2 separate regions of the Homo sapiens genome follow, and region 1 is linked to region 2. The links come from fine-mapping of genetic effects on gene expression. A gene starts in region 2. The other region holds a variant in brackets. All regions are shown on one strand. Distances are from middle to middle. Region 1 overlaps TMEM67 (transmembrane protein 67). Region 2 holds the start of TMEM67 (transmembrane protein 67).

The links.
Region 1: its variant is fine-mapped to the expression of TMEM67 in atrial appendage (GTEx, PIP above 0.99). The same link has a PIP of 0.9 or more in left ventricle.

The regions. Positions count from the first base shown.
Region 1 is chr8:93,789,812-93,799,263 of GRCh38, reverse strand. It overlaps TMEM67 (transmembrane protein 67), which reads right to left. Exons shown (of 28, transcript NM_153704.6): 15 at 7,945-8,001; 16 at 5,968-6,066; 17 at 3,757-3,855; 18 at 3,277-3,363; 19 at 2,031-2,130; 20 at 1,794-1,933. Among named protein-coding and RNA genes, the nearest start is that of TMEM67, 40 kb to the right of the region's middle. The variant A/G (reference allele first, on the strand shown) is at 4,536.
Region 2 is chr8:93,750,289-93,759,740 of GRCh38, reverse strand. TMEM67 (transmembrane protein 67) reads right to left here and starts at 4,847. Exons shown (of 28, transcript NM_153704.6): 1 at 4,604-4,847; 2 at 3,875-3,963; 3 at 1,165-1,258. The coding sequence starts at 4,826.

The DNA of each region.
Region 1 (9,452 bases), 40 kb before region 2:
ATGTGCCAGGCACTGTACTAAACATTTTTATACTTTAAAACAGTATATTACAAAATGTCTTCTAAAGGACATAAGTTCTTGAAAAAAGAATCTATGTTTAAATACTTTTGGTCCATCCATTACACTCACCTCCATGCCTCCCACCCTTGTAGAATAAAGGCTCTGAGAAGTTTTACAGTAAAAGGTGCTACATGATTATACTGAATCCAATATTTTCCAAACTTACTTGACCATAAAACTTTTTCACATAACACCTTTTAAAGCTGAGGAAACTCTTAAACACACACACACACACACACACACACACACACACACACACACTACTTTAGTACAAAAAGAAAAGATGTGAGGTAACAGATAAACTAGCTTGATTTAGCCATTCCACAATGAATACATATATCAAAACACTGTATTGTAAACTATAAACATATGTAATTTTTATCTGTCCATTTAAGAAAAACCAAAATACCACTTCAAGTGAACTTTGGAAGTCTTGTTCATATTATTTTAAAGCCCTAGGGATACAAACATTCTTCTACTAGTTTTATAAAAGGAAAGGAAGGGAAAGGGGAAAGAGAATGGAAAGAAAGAAGAAAAAAGAGGGAAGGCAGACAGACAGACCTAAGAGTTAATGATTTATATTCAATCTTAATTAAGCAGATAATTCCTGAGAAAACCTATTCCCATATAAACTGTTTCCATGTTCAGTCTTATACTCAGTACTGAATACTTCCTTTAATAATTCCAACCAAATCCATGAAATAACTGCATATGTATCACAAACATGTTGTGTTTTGTTCAGTGTAGCCCCAGCTCTTAGCACAGAACATAGTCTACAGTAAGTGTTCAATACAAATTTGTTGAAAAATATCAAACTTATAATAGTGATTCTAATGCAGGGGAGAATATGGATCGGGGGTAGGGAGCTTTTTCAAAATATAGATACCTGGAGTTACCTCAAAGCTACTAAATCAACACATAGTCTCTAAGGGTGAGCCTGAGCATAGGTATTTTACAAAAGATCCCCAAGGGATTCTGATACAAACCAGTGGTTTTAAAGCTACTCCTTACACCTAGAGCAGTCAAACACACAGAGACAGAAAGTATTATAGAATGGTGGTTGCCTGGGGTTAGGTGTAGCAGGGAATGGGTACAGAGTTGTTTAAGGGGTATAGAGTTTCAGTTTTGCAAGATGAAGAGTTCTAAGATGAATGGTGATGATGATTTTGCGTGGCAATGTGAATGTACGTAACACTACTTTTTGTTTGTTTGTTTTTTTCTGAGATGGAGTTTTGCTCTTTCTGCCCAGGCTGGAGTTCAATGGTGCAATCTCGGCTCACTGTAACCTCCGCCTCCCGGGTTCAAGCAATTCTCCTGCCTCAGCCTCCCGAGCAGCTGGGATTATAGGCATGTGCCGCCATGCCCAGCTAATTTTGTATTTTTTGGTAGAGACGGGGTTTCTCCATGTTGGCCAGGCTGGTCTTGAACTTCCAACCTCAGGTGATCCGCCTGCCTCAGCCTCCCAAAGTGTTGGGATTACAGGCATGAGCCACTGTGCCTGGCCAACTTAACACTATTAAACTCTACACTTAAAAATGCTTAAGATGGTAAACTTAAAAAAAGAATTGTGGTAAAATACGTAACATAAAGGTACTCCTTTTTAATGGCTTCACAACAATATTTCAACCTTTAGAGAAATCTTCCACTGTCATGAAAACTTAGTTGGAATTATATTAGTTTAATATTTATAAGGTACATGTAAGTCGCATATAATCACATCAAACAGTTTATACCTCCAAAAAGAAGAGGACAGTAAGTACTTGAAAGAGTGAATTAATTTTTCTCACAGTCTGAATTTCATTCCATTCATTTGCTACAAAATATGTTCTCCATATGCTTACAGGAACAGTGGCACTTCGTACACCACCCTCACCTGGTCAGGAAAATAAAATGAGTAAAAGAGTTTTACCTCCTTTGCTCTGCAAGGGTAGCAAAAGAATTTTGGTACAAATATTTTTTATTTCAGTTACCTTCAACAGCTTTAAGAACCTTTCCTTTAGGTCGCTCCCAATCAATAAAGAATACATCTATTGTAATCTGGGATATGAGCTTATGCAAAAATTGTAGTGCCTGAGAATGACATATAATAAAACACCTGAAAAAGTACCAGCGTTAAGTCTGCTTATAAAACCAATATTGACTCTTTAAGAAACATACTGTTATCACAAGAACATATAATTTTATGAGTGAATTCACATGAAGTTATAATACCACTAAGGAATCATTAGAAGCTCATCAGATAACCTGGAATCATCAAATTCACAGAATTTTCATATACATCTTAATTTACCTTCCCTTTTTCTTTCTTTCTTTAAAATAGGAATATGAAAAGAGGAGACATTTTTCCTCCTCCTCACATAGGGACTTATATAATTGACTCTTTCCCAAAGATTCTAGAAGCACACTTTGTTTTGTAGATCAGCTGACTTCTTTATAAGTAAAGATATTTTCAACTATAGTTTGTTTTTCCTAATTAAAGTTTTCGAATGCTCTTACTGTCTTTTTTTTCTATTTCTGCTATTCAGATTTCTGATTTTTAAAGAATGTGCTGTTGAAACACATCTTTCTTATTTATACAAGCAATATGTTTAAACTGAGGCATTCTTTCTAGTTGCTGCATTATTCATCAAATAAAGGATAAAAATCTAAGTATGAGATACTTCACCTCAAGAAGCTCCCAGTCAGTGGAAAAAGCAGACACTTAACACTCACAGTAAAATAGGATAAGGACTACCAACAGGCATATAAAGAGATTCACCTACATTGATGGAGAACACTGAGTTGGGGATTGGGGGGCCATAGGAAGAAAGGAGCAAAGGAATCTGGAGACAGACAAAACAACTTTTAAGATCTCAACACTTTATCCAGAGTGGTACCTTTTACCCTTGATTAATGGAGACAAAATTCATGCCTGAAGACATTTTGTCCCATTGTGAATGTATCATCAGACTTTAAAGAAAGTTATATACTGAAATATCATTTTATCAAATAAGCCATACAAATTCATGGCTTCTTTGAAAAAAATATTTAAGGCAGAGTTTCAGACTGAGCATCTACTATAAATAAAAGTAAATTTACCACATAAAATAATTAATGCTTTCTTTCAAAACCAAAGTGAATTTCACGCCAAAGATTTTTGAAAGCATTTTAATTTTAAAGACTTGTTAGTTCATTAGCAGGCCTTTTAAATTTGGTAACCTGTCCTTTAAAACTTACCTTCAGAGCAAAGGCACATCCAACATAAGTGACAAAACGTTCTTCCTGAATTGGCATTGGCAGCAAAACAGACACAGACTTCTGTGCCTATAATAAAAATTACTTGATTAAATATTATCACACACAGTTTTTTTTGTTTGTTTGTTTGTTTTTTGTTTTCGTTTTTGTTTTTTTTTGGGAAAGGAGGGTCTCAGTATGCTGCCCGGGCAGGACTTGATTCTGGACTCACAGGATCCTCCCACCTAAGTCTTCCAATTGAACAAGGTTTTTACTAAGCACAATTTATAAACCAAAGAAAGCATAAAAGAGGAAGATAGTGATGTAATCGATAAGCTCAGCACACTCAAGGAATGGGGAGTTGGGAACTTTTCTTAATACTGTTGATCAAAAATTCTCTCAAATAAAAATAGTTCCTTTATAAAGAAAGCTTTTCAACTATTCAGATATTGGCAGTTGGGGAAAATTCAGAAACTCACTCACTTTGAAGAAAATAAGCCAGTAAAGACCTGTTCCCACTGTGATGATAAAGAAAACATTGGCCAGATCACCAGCATAGTACACCAAGAATTTCACAACTGTCTGCAATTTAAAAAAAAGAATTACAGCTGTTTAAGACTCCATGTATATACCACTTTTAGTAACACTACCACTTTTATACATCATCCACTCCATTTCTTAAGCCTGAAGCCTTGTTTCACATATCCCCATATGATCCAGCTATAAAGACCACCTGCTTCCTCCTCCTTGCTACCTTTTGGCTCCTTACCTTTCTGGCCGTTCCTGGTAGCCTCTTCTTTCAACTCTTCTCATCTTTCACTATCTAAGAAAATTGAACTGCTTCCTAATTTTCTCTTAGTTGGGAATCCTCCCCTCTAATCTCTCCTCCACACTACCACCAGAGTTAGTTTTCTAAGATGTAAATTGGATTGTGTCACTCCCCTTGTTAAAAATGAACAACTCCTCATTGCAATATAAATTCCTGATCCACAAGGTCTTTCACAATATGGGCCAAAATTAACTTTTTAGCCTCATCTGCCAGTTCCAGCCATGTAGTCAATGACTAACCACTCCATACGTTCATCTCAAATACTTTCTGGAATAAAATGGGCATTGTTTTACCAAATATTCTTCTCTTCCCCTCTCTGGTAAGTTCTCATGATTTCTGAGAGCACAGACTATGTCTGTCTTTGCTCACTAACACATTCTCCAGCTCCTGGTAGAGTGCCAGACACTTAGACAATAGAGCCTCAGTGACTATT[A/G]TAGAATGAACAGATAATCCCACTTAAAGTTCATTTCTCTGGGAAGCCTTTCTGGACTATCCCAAGTAGTAAATCAAGTACCCCTGCTGATTCCTTAGCCCACTGGCTTTGGAATCAGAAAGATACTTTGGTTAAAGCTACCATGTAACCTTTCTCATGTTCTTCATCAACAAAACGGAAATACCTATTACTGAGTTGCAAAAATCAAGTGAGTAGAAAATTTAACCTTTACCTCAATTTCATCACGTGTAAAACGCAAATAATAATAATAACCTAACTTCAAAGAGCTACTGTGCGGATTCAGAAAATTACATACATAAAGCTTTAAAAAGTGCCTGGTACATGGTAAATATTTTTTAAATGTTTAATAAAAATAAAAGGTTAACCATGAAGTGAAAGTATAAAGTTAATAGAATAAAATGTGGACTATCTTTGTGATCTTGATATAGGGACGGTTTTCCTAAACAAGATCCCAAAAGCACGTATCATAACATGAAAAAAAATATTCAGATATGATGATATCAAAACCAAAAGTTTCTGGCCAGGCGTGGTGGCTCATGCCTGTAATCCCAGCACTTTGGGAGGCTGAGGTGGGCGGATCATGAGGCCAGGAGTTCAAGACCAGCCTGAACAACATGGTGAAACCCCGTCTCTACTAAAAATACAAAAATTAGCCAGGCATGGTGGTGTGCGCCTGTAATTCCAGCTACTCAGGAGGCTGAGGCAGGAGAATTGCTTGAACCCGGGAGGCAGAGGTTGCAAGTGAACCAAGATTGTGCCTCTGCACTCCAGCCTCAGCGACAGAGTGAGACTCCGTCTCAAAAAAACAACAACAAAAAAAAACAAAAATGAAAACAAAAACAAACCTGAAAGTTTCTGTTAAACAAAGGACTACATGGATAAAAATAACGGATGGGTCACATATTTATTTGGTCATATATTTCAACATCAGAAACCAAAAAGGGGTTACTATTTAGAAAATACAAAAAAAAATTCTTCAAATAAACAATAAAAACTGGAAACATAATAGAGAAATGGGCAAGGGATATAAACAGGCAGTTCACAGAAGGAGAAACCCAAACGATTAAAATGTATATGAAGAGTACAGAGAAATGAAAATGAAATCAACAATGACATACTACTATATGCCATGAGGTTGGCAAAAAATGAAAAGGTTGGAAAAATATCAAGTGTTGCCAAGTATGTGCAGAAATAAGAAGAGCATTGCTGGTGGGAATATAGACTGGCATACAGTATGGTGGGAAGAAAATGAGGTACACATATACCATATGACCCAGCAATACTTACCCTAATTACATATCCCAGAAAAATTCAATGCAACTTTTTTACTTATTCTCTAGCTGTGTCTTATGAGAAGGATCCAGAATGGTCAAAAGATAAAAATATTCTTAAAAAACTCCTGAGATTATACCTGTAAATCAATCATGGGACTCCCAATGCGCCTCTTCCATCCTGCTGTCTTCAAAAGAGATGCTAAAACAGCTAGCCCACCCAATACACCCAAAGCAATCTAAAAAACAAAAGAACAATTGAGAATTTATGTAATTTCTGTCATCGGTGTTCAAAAACACTGTGAACAAGTAAGGAAGTGCTCAAAAAAATGGTGGGGTGGGAAATGTTGAAAGGACACAGGAGTCAGCCGGGCACAGTGGCTCACACCTGTAATCCCAGCACTTTGGGAGGCCGAGGCAGGCGGATCATGAGGTCAGGAGATCAAGACCATCCTGGCTAACACGGTGAAACCCGTCTCTACTAAAAATACAAAAAATTAGCTGGGCATGGTGGTGGGTGCCTGTAGTCCCAGCTACTGGGGAGGCTGAGGCAGGAGAATGGCATGAACCTGGGAGCGGAGCTTGCAGTGAGCCACCAAGATCGCGCCACTGCACTCCAGCCTGGGCGACAGAGTGAGACTCCATCTCAAAAAAAAAAAAAAAGAAAGGACACAGGAGTCAAGTTGGAGGAACTTGTAATGGCCAAATCTGGGACAATTTGAACAAGAAAACAAATAATAATATATTATAATTACTAGAATAAAATAAATATGAGTTCACACTGATTTAAAAATAAATAATTGAATAAATAATGTGAGCAAAGGGAGTTTCTCCTTATAGTAAAGTTCCAAATTAATAAATAAAAAAGTAATTAGGGAAACAGAAAATCACCATCAGGCAAATATCACAGTGAAACTTTCTGCAGGCAAAATCATCAATGGATGCTATTTAATAAAATTAGAGGGCCGGGCACCGTGGCTCACGCCTGTAATCCCAGCATTTTGGGAGGCCGAGACGGGCGGATTGCCTGAGGTCAGGAGTTCGAGACCAGTCTGGCCAATATGATGAAACCCTGTCTCTACTAAAAATATTAAAAAATTAGCTGGGCGTGGTGGTGTGTGCCCGTAATCCCAGCTACTAGGGAGGCTGAGGCAGGGGAATTGCTTAAACCAGCTAGGTGAAGGTTGCAGTGGGCCGAGATAGCGCCACTGCACTCCAGACTGGGCGACAGAGTGAGACTCCATTTAAAATAAAATAAAATAAAATTAGAGGGCCGGCTGGGCATGGTGGCTCACCCCTGTATTCCCAGCACTTTGGGAGGCTGAGGCAGGTGGATCACCTGAGGTTGGGAGTTCGAGACCAGCCTGACCAACATGGAGAAACCCCATCTCTACTAAAAATACAAAAATTAGCTGGGTGTGGTGACACATGCCTGTAATCCCAGATATTCAGGAGGCTGAGACAGGAGAATCGCTTGAACCCGGGAGGCAGAGGTTGCGGTGAGCCAAGATCGTGCCATTGCACTCCAGCCTGGGCAACAAGTGCAAAACTCCGTCTCAAAAAAAAAATGAGAGGGGGAGAATAAGAAGAATAAGAAGAAGCAGGATGTTTGCATAATTTCAAAGAATCTCCCCCATGAGATACTTATTTTTATTTATTATTATAGCATCACTTTGGTGGCATCTTTGCCAAAACTATATGAACTCAATTTGATCATGGGAAAATACCAGACAAACCCAAATTGAGGGCCAAAATAATGGACCAGTACTCTTCAGAAGTGTTAGGGTCATGAAAGACAAAGAAAGACTAAGAATCTGTCACACATTGTAAAACACTAACGAGATATGACAGCTAAAAGCAATATGTGACCCTAGATTGGGTCCTGAAACAGAAAAAAATTCAATAGTGAAATTCAAATAGTATGTAGTTTAGTTAATAGGACTACATCAATATTAATTTCCAGATTATGATCATTGTACTAAGGTTTTGTATGCTAACATTAGGGGAGTCTGGGGAAAGAATAGCTGGCAAATTTGTTTTAGCAACTTCTTGCACATCTGAAATCATTTAATTATAAAATACACTGTATATATTTTAAAAGGTTAAAATAAACTTACATCTGTCTGGACATGTGCTTCTCCATGATCCATTTCATATGTGACTGAGAAAGAAACCTGATATTTAAAACAAAACAAATTAGCTATACTGAAATTATATGATACAAACTTATTTTTGTTATAAAAATACATTTGTAGCTGGGTTTTACCATAAACACTATAGTTTTTAACTATCAATATTACTAGAGTTGACCTTTAACTTACACGTAAATAGATATGCTTTTGAGAATTACTTGTGCTGCTTTAAATATCCTTTCACATACATTAAAAAAGGGGCTCATTAGGAGATAAGTTAAATTCATGCACAAACTAATCATATTTCATTTTCTGATAGACTTCTGTAACTGAGGAATTTGACTAAACTTGTGCATCAGGAATTTAGCAATTGGGTAAACCACCAGTTGCTAAACCGCAGATTAATCAAAGGTCTGAACAAAATCTTAAAGATACCACTACATTAAGAGACAAGAGAAAGAAGAACCTAGTAAAGGGTCAGAGAAGAGGACTGTGAGGGGTAGGAGAGGAAGATACCTAAGTCTTACCATGGTCACAGAATAGGGAGTTTCAAGAAGGAGGAGGAGGTTGAGTACAGTGTCAAATGTTGTATAAATGTCAAGGTAAAGAAAGCCACTATATGTGGAAATCATTGCTGACTTTCATGAAAGAGGTTTTCAAAGAAGTAAATGGCAAGAGCCAGACTGCAAATGATGAAAGAATAAATGGTTGGGAAATGAAGAAGAGATATAATAGCAAGCTGGGCAGCTGGCAGAACTGAGTAAAATGTTTGTTTGTTTAGTTGGTTGTTTTAGTTTGTTTTTAAGATAAGGCAATCTCAGAGTTTTTATAAGCAAAGGAAAGGGACTTGCAGAGAGACTTGGCTGAATAAGACATTAGGGATGGAACAGGATATTGGAAAAGGTACTGTAAATGAGTTTAGATAGAAGATTAGTTTAGGAAGAGAGGAAGGGACCTTCTTTCTTAGAAACAGGAACAAGAAATGGGAAGGACAATGAATCAGAGATTCTGAAATATTAAAGAGGAAATCTTAAGGAATTCATATTAGATGGTCCTGATCTGCTCAAGACCAGATAAAGAGCAGAGACATAGCTGGATGTTTACAACTGATGTAAAATTTTGCAACAGCTGCCACGAGAAATTAAGAAATGATGAAAGAATTGTATATTTTATAATTAGAATAATTTGAGGTGGACTTCATCAATGTAGTTTCATGACTTGACTTTTTTTTTTTCTTTTGAGACAGAGTCTCACTCTGGTGTGCAGTGGTGCAATCTTGGTTTACTGCCATCTCTACATCCCAGGTTCAAGCGATTCTCCTGCCTCAGCCTCCCAAGTAGCTGGGATTACAGGTACCTGCCACCATGCCCAGATAATTTTTTTTGTTGTTGTATTTTTAGCAGACAGGGTTTCACCGTGTTGGCCAGGCTGGTCTCTAACTCCTGACCTCAACTGATCTGCCTGCCTCAGCCTCCCATAGTGCTGGGATTGCA
Region 2 (9,452 bases):
AGAGGGAGGTTGCAGTGAGCCAAGATCACACCATTGCACTCTAGCCTGGGCAACAACAGTGAAAACTCTGTCTCAAAAAAAAAAAAACAAAAATAAAAATTAAAATTAAAAAAAAGGATATGCCTACTTATTTTTTCTTTTTTGTTGCTACTGTATATGAGGTATTTTCTTCCATCACTGTTTATAATAATTTTTAGTCATTCTGTTGGGTGTTTTAAACATACAATCAAATCATCTGTAAACAATGATATTTTACTTTTTTTTTTTTTTTTTTTCATGAGACAGGGTCTTACCCTGTCGCTCAGGCTGGAGTGCAGTGGCGCCATCTCAGCTCACTGTAGCCTTGACCTTCCAGGCTCAAGCGATCTTCCCACCTTTGCCTCTCGAGTAGCTGGGACTACAGGTGCATGCCACCGTAACCAAATAATTTTTTTTTTTATTTGTAGAGATGCGGTTTCACCATGTTGCCCAGACTGGTCTCAAACTCTTGAGCTCAAGCAATACACCTGCCTTAGCCTTCCAAAGTGCTAGGATTAACAACGGCCTACCTTTTCTTTTCCAATGATAAATATTTTTTTTCTCTTACTTAAGTGCATAGTTTGCATCCTTTTCCAGGTCCTGACATTAACAGGAATGCTTACGCTTTTTCCCTATTAAGTATCAAGTTGGCTTTTGAGTTGAGACATATTTTGTCATGTTATGTTAAGGAAATAACCATCTAATCCTACAATATTAAGAGTTTTAAAAAACTCAGACAAAACTTTGTATTTTCTTCTCAATGCCTGCTGATGTTTTAAGTATCATTAATTTGTACAAAAATAATTTTTATAAACACTATTAAGGGCTGGACACAGTGACTGATGCCTATAATCCCAGCACTTTAGGAGGCTGAGGCAGGAAGATCTCTCGAGGCCAGGAGTTCAAGACCAGGCTGAGCAACATAACGAGACCCAGTCTCTACAAAAAATTTAAAAATTAGCCAGCTGCAGTGGTGTTATGTGTGCAGTCCCAGCTACTCAGGAAGCTGAGGCAGGAGAATTGCTTGAGCCACTGCAAAAATATTAAGTAATCACTTAACTATTTAAATTAGTGCCCTTTTCAAATAAAAACAAAAACAAGAATGAAGATTTATCACTACTTCTTTATAAGGAATCTAATTCTTACCTAAAATATGGCCAATGGGACAGTGACATTTTCCTTCGGCAGTTAAGTCACTAGGGCAAGAAATGCAGTTCCAGCCATCTTCTGTAACACCTTTCTAAATTAAAAGAAAAAAAATGCTTTTCTCTTTTTTAATTAACTTTCTTCTTCTAATCATGTAAGTTCAAAATGCCATAAGAGTATGTAACTACAGTGAATATTCAAATAAATCATACATATATGAGCCACATAAAAATTCCCTGGAGAGATAATTCATGCTTATATTCCAAAATGAAGCTCTATATTATCACTATGTCCTGAAAACTATTAAAGGATTAACTCCGGATAATAGTTCTCTCTTCTTCAGGATCTTTAATTCAAATGGATGCCTCTTTCATAATTATTTGTCATTTCGTTTTTCCATTTACAAATATAAAACACAACACAACACAAAAAGATTGAATCAACGGTCAGTTAATAGGTTAATCTTACCTGTTCTAAAACTCTATTCTAATTTTTAAAAATTCAAATACCTAAAAAATTTAGTCCAGGCACAGTGGCTCACGTCTGTAATTCCAGCACTTTGGGAGGCCAAGGTGGGTGGATCACTTGAGGCCAAAGCTTGAGGCCAGCCTGGCCAATGTGGTGAAACCTCGTCTCTACTAAAAATACAAAAATTAGCTGGGCGTGGTGGTGTATGCCTATAATCCTACTTGGGAGGCTGAGGCACCAGAATGGCTTGAACCAGAAAGGTGGAGGTTGCAGTGAGCTGAGATCGTGCCACTGCACTCCAGCCTGAGCAACAGTAATACTCTCTTTCAAAAAAAAAAAAAATTCATTTATGATTCAAAATGGGTAAATTTTATGAAATATATAAATTATACACATAGTTGTTAAAATTGATTTATGAGAATATTTTCTTCTATCCATTTATGGCTTGTACTAGTAAAGGTTTTTTTTTTTTTGAGACAGAGTCTTTGCTCTGTTGCCAGGCTGGAGTGCAGTGGCACAATCTCGGCTCACTGCAAGCTCTGCCTCCCAGGTTCAAACAATTCTCCTGCCTCAGCCTCCCGAGTAGCTGGGACTACAGGCACGTGCCACCACGTCCAGCTAATTTTTGTATTTTTAGTAGAGATGGGGTTTCACCACATTTGCCAGGATGGTCTTGATCTCTTGACCTCGTGATCCACCTGCCTCAGCCTCCCAAAGTGCTGGGATTACAGGCGTGAGCCACCGCGCCCGGCCTAGTAAAGGTTTTTGATAAAGTATGACAGCATTCAAAATTGGGCTTATTATATCATATGGTTTAGGAAAAGCCTGGGGCAAAAAACACAATAATTACAAACACAGATGTAACCAAAGTTTATAAAGAACAAAAATAATGCCACAAATTATTTTAAATTTTGGTTGAAAAGACTGAATTTATCAAGAAATACTCCTATATTTGGCAATACATTTATACAGGACAATTTATTTATTTATTTATTTATTTATTTATTTATTTATTTATATTTTATTTATTTTTTTGAGACAGAGTCTCGCTCTGTCACCCAGGCTGGAGTGCAATGGTGCAATCTTGGCTTACTGCAACCTCTGCCTCCTGAGTTCAAGCGATTCTCTTGCCTCAGCCTCCCAAGCAGCTGGGACTACAGGCACGCGCCACCACAGCCAGCTCATTTTTGTATTTTTAGTAGAGATGGGGTTTCACCATATTGGCCAGGCTGGTCTCAAACTCCTGAGCTCATGATCCACCAGGCTCAGCCTCCCAAACTGCTGGGATTACAGGCATGAGCCACTGTGCCTGGCCTATACAGGACAATTTAAAAATTACAATAACTTAAACAATGTCACTGAAAAAGAAATCTGCTGCGAGACCACTTTTTATTAGCAGCTTTTTATCATGGGTAATTCAGCTAGGATCAATATTTGCAAAGATATAAAATAAATGGTAATCTATTATAATCTATTATAAAGATATAAAATAAATGGTAATATAAAAAGTGGTAATCAGACTTACAAGTAATACAGATAGCTATAAATTGGGACAATTGATAACTTCACATTAAATTCCCAGAATTAATATTTTTTATATGACAATGAGAAGAAACATTACTGTAAATGTCACAACTGTTACACAGACTTTTAATTATCCAACATGATTGAAAAATATATTTATGTTGAGAATTATATATAGTAACTATTTACTAATTTTTTTTAAATTACGATACAATGAAATTACTAACAAAACAGAAACAGACATTATTTAATCTATTAATGCAATTGGTATTTCATGAAATAATTACACCTTAGATATCATTATGAACATCAATAATCATATAAACTGTTGACATGGTAGGTCTAAGACAACTCCACTTGCATCAGTCAAAAGAATATACACATCCCAAATTGCACACATCCCAGACTGCTCTATATATGCCTTATTCATCTAATTTTCTTCATAACCGAGTTATTCTACGAGTAAAAACAAAAACTTAAATTTTTACAGCTTTGTGGTTTTTGGATTTCAGATTTTAAAAGAAATACATTTCTGTTTTCTCCAAGTTTGCATGAAATTTCGCTGATCTCCCAAAACTTACTCTAGTAAAAATAAAATTAGCATAGTAATTTTAAAGTCTGTGGGGAAACATTAAACATTAAATTATATTTTGAAAAATAAAGATATTTAACTTACTACTTTTTACAGGTAAGTTATTTTAAAATAAATTATGCGCACCATGTTTTCTGGGCACTTTTTACAAATAATAGCAGGTCCTCCATTATTAGAGATCATCTGAAATCCTGGTAGACATACACATGAAGTTCCTAAAAAAAAAAAAAAAAAAAAAAAAGCCAATTTTATCCTTGATAAATAAAAATAAAGTTCCCAGATAGTGAAACTTTTAATAAGTCTGAAGATCTTGAGAAGCAGTATAGTGATTAACAGCAGGATTCTGGAGGCAGTACTGCCTGGGTTCAAATCCAGAAATACACTTCTTGAGTTCCAATCGTAGTAATCCTACTCAGTTGCATGACCTTGAACAAGTTACTAAACTCTCTGCCTTGGCTTCCTCTACAATAAAATGGAGAAAAAAAATTGGTACCTACCTCACAGGGTTAGTATGAGTACAAAATTAGTTATTATACGTAGAGGTCTTACACTGGCACACAGCTGGTATTATGCTGCTACCATTTTAAGTGCAAGTATAACTAAACTATTAAACTACTTAACTGCTGCTGGAAATTTTACATTTCTACGTCACTAAACAATATACATGTATTCGGGCCAGGCGCGGTGGCTCACGCCTGTAATCCCAGCACTTTGGGAGGCGGAGGCGGGTGGATCACCTGAGGTCAGAAGTTCGAGACTAGCCTGATCAACATGGTGAAACTCCATTTACGGGGACTAGGGGCCGACCAAGGCGGGAGTGTTACTTTTGCCAGGGCCCACCGCAAACCGTCTTACCTCGGGCATCTTGCCTCTGGTTAGCTCCACAAGGAACACACGAGAGGGCGGAGATATCAAAGTACTGGTTGTTGTCGCACTTCTCCGGCTGCTGGAAAGGGAAAGAGAAGGTCTGGGCCTGTAAGAAGCGAGGGAGGAACAACAGAAGGAACGCGGTCACGGCCCGGGCGGATAAGAGGGACCAAACCGCCATTGCCACCCCAGCCCCACCGCGCGTCGCCATGGTACCGACGCTGGAAGCCTCACAGCCTCCAGCCCCCCATCAGCCTCTGCGGCGGCTTCGCTGAGCTGATTGGACAACCCAAGTCCGGGTACCGGAAGTCACTGCTCGTGTTGCTTGGTTGCTAGGTTACCAACCCTGCGCGAAGTTGGCAGGTCCAGTAAAGAATGGGTTAGAGACCGGTTAACCCTGGAGCCCAGCGATATTTTCAAACGTGTATAGAGTTCCTCTACTTACGATAGGGCTGCCCCCTCCCCGCAATAAACCCATCGTAAGTTGAAAATATCATAATTTGTCGAGTTATAGTTACATCAGAATTTATTCAGACTAGGTAATTTTCACGTTAAAGGAAACATGACTTGTAGTTTAACAATTTGATGTCAAAAAACCCCACTGACTTAAAACCCAGTGAAGGATTACTATAGCTCAAAGACTGAAAAAATAAAAAAACTTTCCTGCCAGGTTTGAGCATAGGAAATCATGTATGCGAGACAAAGTACGAAACGGAAGAAACCATGTTTGCTCATTCTGTTGCCAGCGAAATTTCACAAAGCCCCTGACTCAGTGACTGAACGCAGTCCTCCAGAAGAATGCCCTGAAGACAATAAGTAGGATAGAGCACAAGTTTTCACATCTGTTGCTTGAATCACTTCATTTTTTAAAAAGATACAGTCAGCGATCCTAGCTCTTGCCTCTTCCTGTACGTAAGATAACGTGTGACAGGATTAATGATTATGCCTCTGTAATCTATAACCAGATGTAGTCTCCAAACAAAACTTTGATGAGATTTTGCTCCAACGTAACTTCTGAGCACGTTTAATGTAACTTTTGAGCACATGCAGAACTCCATCCCTTGATGTAGAAACTGGGGGCAGAACAGCTGCTTTGGACCAGTATAACATAAACTCTTTGAAAGACTCTCCAGGGTTGCATTCCTCAGTAAGACTCCGAATAAAACTAACTTTGAGTCTTTAAAAGCCTGATTTTTTTCTTTAGTTGACATGTATATAAAATGAGATCACCTTTACACCTTTTGTGAATAAAGGAATCTAAGCCTGGTGCTGTGGCTCACACCTCTAATCCTAACATTTTGGGAGGCCACAGTGGAAGGATTGTCTGAGCCCAGGAATTCAAGACCAGCCTGGGCAACATAGTGAGACTCCACCTCTACAAATAAAATTTATTTTAATTAGCTGGGTGGGTGGCACATGCCTATGGTCCCGGTTGCTTGGAAGGCTGAGGCGGGAGAACCACTTAAGCCCAGGAGGTCAATGAGCCCAAAGGCTGCAATAAGCTATGATCGTGCCACTGCACTCCAGCCTGGATGTCAGAGACCCTATATAAAAAAAAAAAAAAATCCTGGACAAAAATATGGAAACGTTTAGAGTTAGAGACCACTTGCGAGGCTAAGGTAGAAATCTAGAGTCTAAATTGGAGCCATGGAGGAAGGGAGAGGCAGAAGAGGATGAATAAAGGAGCTATTCAGGAAGAAGAATTATAAGAATTTTATTATTTGGACATAGGAAGTAAACAAACAGAATCAAGGATAACTTCCAGGTTTCTGATTTGGGTGGCTGGGTAGACGGTTGTGATATTAAAGGAAGATACCTGTGGTAGATAGCTTCTAAGCGAAAACTTATTGGATAAAGAAAATTTTAAGGTAGAAATGAAAGTTATAGGAATATTTAACATGGTGGGAGCTAGAGGTATGGATAATAATAGAAATAATAGGTATTAATAGCTTGTTTTTGTTATCAAGCAAATGAGCTCTCTATCCAATGCATGCACAGAAGCCAATACTATGTGGCACAAGCTTTTGAGGAAAAAAAGTCTTTATTTGCACAACTGGTCAGCAAGGAGATAGGAGTGCATTCAAATCTGTTTCCCTGATTTAGAGTCTGGGGTAAACTTATGGGCTTGGAAAGCCAAGGGAAGAATTTAGGAATGTGTCTTGGCAGGCAGAATGGAGGACTTGAAATTTGACCATTTAGAAAAAGGTACGTAGAGGCCGATTTTAGGCCTGATCCTCCAGGCAAATGGACCCAACACTTTTGAAAGAGTTCCAAGTTCAGGTTCCAGTCATGTCCCGGTCTTGGTTCCAAGGAAAGGATTCACTGGTTTTGGGTGTTGTTAGAGGTCCAGGCTTTTTCTATTGCACATGACTGGGCTACATGACTTTCAGTTTTTGGCTCTGTTACATCTAAAAGGTAACACGACATTTTGTTATCAACAGAGTAGGCTCAGTTTGGGCTAGTCCCATGGAGACACTTTTAATGTGTCCGGCATTGCAATATCTCATTTGATCCTAAATTGGGACTGTTATCATCACCTTTAATTTACAGATGAAATAACCAAGGCTTAGAAAGTATAAGTGACTTTCTAAGGTCACACTTAATTCATGGTTCTAACCCTGGTAATTTGACACCAGAGCCCATACTTTTCTTCGGGTTTTTGTTGTTGTTGTTGTTGTTTTAAACTTTAATTTAGGTTCAGAGGTACATGTGCAGGTTTGTTATATAGGTAAATTGAGTGTCTCGGGGGTTTGGGGATCAGATTATTTCCTTACCCATGTGATAAGCATAGAACCCAATAGGTAGTTTTTTGATCCATACTCTCCTTTCACCCTCCACCCTCAAGTAGTACCCAGTATCTATTGTTCCCTTCTTTGTGTCCACCTGTACACAATGTTAGCTCCAACTAATAAGTGAGAACACACAGTATTTTATTTCTTTCCTGTGTTAGTTTGAGATAGGAGGTTGGCAGGACTGATTTCACAGGATAAGATCATAAAGACCTGGCTGATAAAACAGGATAGGTAAAGAAGAGGACTGAAACCTGCTAAAACCAAGATGGTGACCAAAGTGACCTCTGGCCATCCTCACTGCTCATTATATGCTAATTACAATGGATTAACATGCTAAAAGACACTCCCACCAGCACCTTGACAGTTTGCCCCTTGCCATGCCCACTTAGAGAAGTTACCCTACATGGTCTAACAAGGGAGGACGCTCCGTTCCAGGAATTCCCCACCTTTTTCCTGGAAAACTCATGAATAATCCACCCCTTGTTTAGTATATGATCAAGGAATAACCATAAATATACTCAGTCTAGCAGTCCTTGCCATTGCTCTGCCTATGAAGTAGCCACTCTTTATTCCTTTACTTTCTTAACAAACTTGCTTTCACTTTATTCTGTCAGATTGCTCTTGAATTCCTTCCTGCATGAAGCTGAGAACCCACATGGCCACTCAGGCTGAACCCTGATTTTGAGGTTTTCTCTGTGACAAGTTTGCTTTGGATAATGCAGAGCCCACACTCTTAAGCCCTGCTTTTTATTGTTGCCTTTGAATCTCTGGATGTGCTTTTCTGGGCAGGAATAAAGAAAAGCTAAAGGCAAGTAAGTTCAAGATGAGATTAATGAATTAAAATATTACAAAGAAGGTGAAAAACAGAAGTGGAGGTTGTGGTGAGAAAGGGGAATTAGTGAGGTTCAGATCTTACATCTGGGGCACTTTGTGTGGTGAACCCTGTGTTCATTCCCAATCTCCAGACACTTAGTGCCCTTTTGATTTGTTAATCTTTTGTGTGTAACTTGTTTTTTACTTTCTTGAAGTCTTCAGGATGTTCCTCTCTGTGCCCCACCTTCTCATTTTTCTTAATTTTACAGTGATGTGTCTGGGCATGTTTCATTGTCATCTTTTGTGTGGAACACCTGTTGTAACTTTGCAATTCAGCAAAGAAACTCATGTCCTTTAACACTGGGAAATGATCTCTTCTACTAATTATTCCTTTGAAGACTTTCTCTCCGTTTTTTTTTTCTTCTGGACACCCTATTTTTCAGATACTAGACTTCCTGGACTGTTCCTCTAATTTTCTCAGATTATGTTTTCATTTTTCTTTTCTTTTTTCTTTTTTTTTTTTTTTGAGACGGAGTCTCGCTCTGTCGCCCAGGCTGGAGTACAGTGGCGGGAGGCGGGATCTCCGCTCACTGCAAGCTCCGCCTCCCGGGTTCACGCCATTATCCTGCTTCAGCCTCCGGAGTAGCTGGGACTACAGGAGCCCGCCACCTCGCCCGGCTAATTTTTTGTGTTTTTAGTAGAGACGGGGTTTCACCGTATTAGCCAGGATGGTGTCAATCTTCTGACTTCGTGATCTGCCCGCCTCGGCCTCCCAAAGTGCTAGGATTACAGGCGTGAGCCACCGCGCCCGGCGTGTGTGTGTGTGTGTGTGTGTGTGTGTGTGTGTCGGAGTTTTTTTGCTCTTGTTGCCCAGGCTGGAGTGCAATGGCACGATCTCTGCTCACTGCAACCTCCACCTCCTGGGTTCAAGTGATTCTCCTGCCTCAGCCTCCCGAGTAGCTGGGATTACAGGCATGTGCCACCACGCAGGGCTAATTTTGTTATTTTTAGTGGAGTCGGAGTTTCTCCATGTTGGTCAGGCTGGTCTCAAACTCCCGACCTCTGGTGATCCACCCATCTCGGCCTACCAAAGTGCAAGGATTACAAGCGTGAGCCACCGCGCCCAGGCTTCATTTTTCATTTTGTTTTGTTTGGTTCTACTTTCTGGAAGATTTTCCTGCGCGTATCTGTCAAACATTGAATTGAACTTTTCATTTCTTCTATTATAAATT